2 separate regions of the Homo sapiens genome follow, and region 2 is linked to region 1. Evidence: fine-mapped expression QTL. A gene starts in region 1. The other region holds a variant in brackets. All regions are shown on one strand. Distances are from middle to middle. Region 1 holds the start of PNMA8A (PNMA family member 8A). Region 2 has its middle 10 kb from the start of PNMA8B.

The links. PIP is the estimated chance that this variant, and not a neighbour inherited with it, causes the effect. A credible set is the group of variants that fine-mapping cannot tell apart.
Region 2: its variant is the best candidate, but not a certain one, in a credible set for the expression of PNMA8A in ileum (GTEx, PIP 0.53).

Annotation. Positions count from the first base shown.
Region 1 is chr19:46,469,976-46,472,885 of GRCh38, reverse strand. PNMA8A (PNMA family member 8A) reads left to right here and starts at 1,323. Exons shown (of 3, transcript NM_018215.4): 1 at 1,323-1,549; 2 at 1,772-2,910. The coding sequence starts at 1,851.
Region 2 is chr19:46,504,688-46,507,597 of GRCh38, reverse strand. No RefSeq gene overlaps it. Among named protein-coding and RNA genes, the nearest start is that of PNMA8B, 10 kb to the right of the region's middle. The variant A/G (reference allele first, on the strand shown) is at 1,577.

The DNA.
Region 1 (2,910 bases):
CAAAACCTGGAAAAGGCACCGAAAGCCTCTCTCCATAAGACATGCCTGCCAGCACCATGACAGTTTACCATTGCCATGGCAACACCCATAAGTTACTGCCAATTTGCTAATTCTGAAAACCCACCCCTTAATTAGCACGTCATTAAAAGTGGGTATAAATGTGACTGCAGCCTTGCCCCGAGGTGCTATTCTCAGCACACTGCCTAGAGGGTAGCCCTCCTTGTTAGGTTTTGGAGGGAAGGTGAGGGTTAAAGACACACAGACAGAAGGCGGCTCAACAGCAACTCAGGTATACTGCAGACACCTGTGGAAGTGGGTAACCAGCCTAATGCCAGAGCCCACTGCTGCTTATAGGCTGGGGGTACTTATAGTTATGGGTGGGAGGGGTCTGAGCAGTATGGTTTGCTGCCCAGCAGGATGTTGATAAGATGGTTCCATGATGAGGCGGTTCTGGCCCTTGTTCTGGTGGAATGTGGTGTTCTCTGCACTTTCTCCCAGCAGAATATGATAGGGATGTTTCTTCAGTTGGGCCTTTGCACGATAGGGTATGATAATGTTTCTTTAGCTGGGCCTTTGTCCGCCTTGTGGTCAGGTGATTAGGCAGGATGTTTCTCATTGGCCCGAACCCCCGTGGAATATTTCACTTTGACCAAGATCTGCAAAATAGTCAGGGCTTACAAAATGGTTGCAGTTTGGACTAACACTTCTCTGTAGGGGCAGTCACTGAGCTGTAACATTGTCCCCTGCCTGGAGGATGCCAAGAACCTGCCCTGAATCACGTTGAGGAAACAAGAAAAGGCGAGGCATTATCCTCATGCTAGAAGGGGTCGGGGAGGAGACTAAGAAATTTCTAGAAGTTTCTGGAAATTCCTGGAAGAACCCAGCAGCTTGTAAGAGAGAAGGCTACAAGCCCAACAGGAACTGCACCTGCTGTTGGAGGAACCCAAGAAGATTAAAGCCTCGTTTTCCTCCTTTCTTGATTTCTAGTGTCTCCCAAGAGTTGCGTTGGGTGAATCCAACAGGTGGGGCAGAGGATAATACAGTCAGTGGGTGCAGCCATAGGTGTTGGCGCTTCTCATCGACCTAACCCCCGTTCGCGAGGCCCACTTGGGTTGAAAGAGGGCCTCCGTGGAGGCGCCACCGGAGTGTATCCAGACCCGCTTGCTCTGCGACCTGAACAGGCCACTCTTGCACCCGGCTCCCTAGGTCCAATTGCAGCGCCGGCGCGCCGGCCGGGCTCAGCCCTAGCAACCCACGCCCGGTTGCCATGGAGACGTCGGCACCTGCGCAGCCCAAGACCCCCGAGCGGCGGTGCGGGAGCCAGTGCGCAGGCGCGCGCTGCGACGCCAACCTCGGCTTCTCGCCGCTAACGGCATCGAGTCTGGACGCCCCGTGACCCGCCTGGGCCGGAGCGGGGGCGGACGGCGCCTTCTTGGCCCTTTCTGCCTCTAGCAGCGGCGCCGGGGTAGCCGGAGCCAGCGACTGGGAAACGGCTGCATTCCACTGCGTCTCCTTGGCCTGGCTGGGCGGTCGGAGGCTGATCTGCCAAGTAAGTCCCGGCTGGGCAGGCGGAGCGTCAGGCCCGGGGGAGGGTCCTAGGGCCTTTTGCTGCAGATTCAGGGACACGTGTGAGCACCGGGGCCTGGGTTGGGGAGGAGGGTGTTGGGAAAGCGCCAGGCCTCCTGCAGGCCAGCCGCGGAGGGGGCAGCTAGGATCTGTGAGCTTGGTCATCTTCCTGGGAACGTGACCTCGCTCCCTTGTCACCTTGCAGGATTACTGTTTGGAGACCGCTGCAGCCCACGTCCACCTGATAGACTATTTACTACACATAGTAGGTTCAGAGCCGCTAAATGTCCAAGACCATGGCGATGAACCTTCTGGAGGATTGGTGCAGGGGAATGGAAGTGGACATCCACAGGTCCTTGTTGGTCACAGGCATCCCAGAGGACTGTGGGCAGGCAGAAATTGAGGAGACCTTGAATGGGGTCCTCTCCCCACTGGGCCCGTACCGCGTGCTCAACAAGATTTTTGTGAGGGAAGAGAATGTTAAAGCTGCCCTCATTGAGGTTGGTGAAGGTGTGAATCTGAGCACCATCCCCCGTGAATTCCCAGGAAGGGGTGGTGTCTGGAGAGTGGTCTGTAGAGACCCTACCCAGGATGCCGAGTTTTTAAAAAATCTGAATGAATTCCTGGATGCCGAGGGGCGCACCTGGGAGGATGTGGTCCGCCTGCTCCAGCTCAACCACCCCACCCTGTCCCAGAACCAGCATCAGCCCCCAGAGAACTGGGCAGAAGCTCTGGGGGTGCTTCTGGGAGCAGTGGTGCAGATCATCTTCTGCATGGATGCCGAGATCCGCAGCCGGGAGGAAGCCAGGGCCCAGGAGGCCGCTGAATTCGAGGAGATGGCAGCCTGGGCTTTAGCAGCAGGGAGGAAGGTGAAGAAAGAACCGGGGCTTGCAGCAGAGGTGGGTTCTGCCTTAAAGGCAGAGACCCCCAACAACTGGAATGCCACGGAAGACCAGCATGAGCCTACCAAACCTTTGGTTCGCAGGGCTGGAGCTAAGTCTCGCTCCAGGAGAAAGAAGCAGAAGAAGAACTCCAGGCAGGAAGCAGTGCCCTGGAAAAAACCCAAAGGCATCAATTCCAACAGCACAGCTAACTTGGAGGATCCTGAGGTGGGTGATGCTGAAAGCATGGCGATCTCAGAGCCGATCAAGGGCAGCAGAAAGCCCTGTGTGAATAAGGAGGAGTTGGCTTTGAAGAAGCCCATGGCGAAATGTGCCTGGAAGGGTCCCAGAGAGCCACCTCAGGATGCCCGGGCAGAAGCCGAGAGCCCAGGAGGCGCCTCTGAGTCAGACCAAGATGGTGGCCATGAAAGCCCACCAAAGAAGAAGGCCGTGGCCTGGGTGT
Region 2 (2,910 bases), 35 kb before region 1:
GGCTAACTTTTGCTTTTTTAGTAAAGATGGGGTTTCGCCATGTTGGCCAGGCTAGTCTCGAACTCCTGACCTCAGGTGATCCACCGGCCTCGGCCTCCCAAAGTGTTGGAATTACAGGCGTGAGCCACTGCGCCCAGCCCAGCTTTTTGTTTTCTTTTGCAAATAGTGGGTTAACATTTTTTAGCATTTTCTAAGGTGGAACATGATGAGGCTTGACTAAGGTTGAAATCCATATTTCATGGTCCGCTCTAGTGTGAATGGAATCACTGATACACTTCATCCTATATCTTGCTTCTCTGCAACAATAGAACATGGCCAGTTGCCAGGAAATACATTGGGACCCAGCTCACTGTTTTTCATCATCACATGAAAATCCACAGAAAGTCTGTGAAGTAATTTATTCACTCTTTTCATCATTATGAATTCGTAGTTATTAGTGGTTCATATCTGATCTCCCTATGATGTCAGCCAGGCCCTGGTCTGATGTAGTCACAGTCATATCCCACACGTGTGGGTTCTTTGTGTTTGCTAAATGATTAAATGAACAAATGAATGAATGAGTGCTGAGGAGGGATGGTGCTGCTGAAAGTCTGCCTAGTATCCCTGTTAGAATCAGAGGTTTGGAGCCAGACACGGTGGTTCACGCCTGTAATCCCAGCACTTTGGGAGGCCAAAGCGGGCAGATTATGAGGTCAAGAGATCGAGACCATCCTGGCCAACATGGTGAAACCCCGTCTCTACTAAAAATACAAAAGTTAGCTGGACGTGGTGGCAGGTGGCTGTAATCCCAGCTACTTGGGAGGCTGAGGCAGGAGAATCACTTGAACCCAGGAGGCGGAGGTTGCAGTGAGCCGAGATCACGCGACTGCGCTCCAGCCTGCTCACAGAGCAAGACTCCATCTCAAAAACAAACAAACAAACAAACAAAAGAATCAGAGGTTTGGAGTCACAGAGACCTGAGGTCAAATTGATGTCTCACCACTTCCCAGTTGTAAAAGACCTTCCACCCTGCGTGTGTGTGCACACACACACAGCCTCAGATTTCTCATCTGGGAAATAGAGATAATAATGGGGCTGGCTTTACATGACTGTGGTGAAGATTAAATGAAGCAATATATTAAAGGCTATTCTAGCCAATGTCTGGCATAAGATCATCCCTTGGCATGGTGTGTGTGATGTTATAATTCCTCCTTTCCTTTCTTCCTCCATCTGTTCAATACAAGATTTACTGAGCACCATGTTATACTATCCTCTTTGTATTATAGAAATGTTATTCACATTTAACAATATATTATTGGAGCAACAGAAAGAGCTAAAATACCTTTAGGAATTGCATTGGGCTCTGTTCAAAAAAGTCAACAATTAGCCGGGTGCGGTGGCTCACGCCTGTAATCCCAGCACTTTGGGAGGCCAAGGCGGGCGGATCACAGGTCAGGAGATCGAGACCATCCTGGCTAACACAGTGAAACCCTGTCTCTACTAAAAATACAAAAAATTAGCCGGGTGTGGTGGCGGGCGCCTGTAGTTCCAGCTACTCAGGAGGCTGAGGCAGGAGAACGGCGTGAACCCAGGAGGC[A/G]GAGCTTATAGTGAGCCGAGATAGTGCCACTGCACTCCAGCCTGTGCAACAGAGCGAGACTGTCTAAAAAAAAAAAAAAAGTCAACAGTTGTGGTGGTAAAAGCACAAACAGCAATGAGAAAATGGGAAAACACTATGAACAGGATATTTAAAGAAGGGGATTTCCAAATAAACTAAAAAAGAGATGTGCAAACTCATTTGTAGTTGGAGAACAATGAGCTACCACCTTATGCCCATGAGATGGGCAAATCCTAGAAGCCTGGACAATCTCCAGAGGTGGGAGTGGGCACTGGGGGCACAGGAATCCTCATATGTGAGCAAATAGGGACATTCATTGCACTGAGTGACTTGTAGGACTTGGTAGAGTTAGGAATACGCAGACCCTAGTCAGGCGCAGTGGCCCATGCTGTAATCCGGCACTTTGAGAGGCTTAGGAAGGAGAATTGCTTGAGCCCAGGAGTTCGAGACCAGCCCAGACAACATAGTGAGACCCTATCTCTACAAAAATTTTTTTAAAATAAGCAAGACGTGGTGGTGCATACCTGTAGTCTCAGCTACCCAGGAGGCTAAGGCAAGAGGATCACCTGAGTGCAGGAAGTCAAGGCTGTTGTGAGCCATGATGGCTACTGTCACTCGGTGACAAAAATAAATAAATAAATAAAGGAATATGCAGACCCAAGCAATTCTGCTCCTGGGACCTATGCCAAGGGCAGTCTCAGTGTCTCATTCTCATTCAACATCATAAGAAAATGTGTACAAGAACATTTATGGTAGAGTATTTGTGCTGTGTGTATGTGGGAGCAGGAGATGGATCTGGGTGTGCACTGGTTACTTTCGCTGTGTAACAAACCAACCCTCACTTAGTGTCATAAAGCAGCAACATCTCATTATGCCCATAGATTCCATGGGTCCATAGTTATGAAAGGGGATGGCTTCTTTTGGCCCCATAATGTGTGGGGCCACAGCTGGGATGACCCCAATGGCTAGGGTCTGGAATCATCTGGAAGCTTCATCACTCATATGTCCGGTGCCTGGTTTGAGATGATTTGAAGACTGGACTTAGTTGGAGCTGTTGACTTGAGCACCTACATGCAGAGCTCTCCATGTGAGTTGGGCTTCCTCACGGCATGGCAGCTAAGTTCCAAGCAGTAATTATTCCAGAAGAACCAGGCAAAAGCCTTTTATAACTAACCTTGGAAGTCACCTAGCATCCAGCTAACCTTGAAAGACACAGAGCAAGTGGATGTACACTAGCAGTTGAGGTAGTCACAAACTCACCCAGATTCAGCTTCAAGGAAAGAGGAGGTAGATCTCACCTCTCAGCAGAGTTAAAG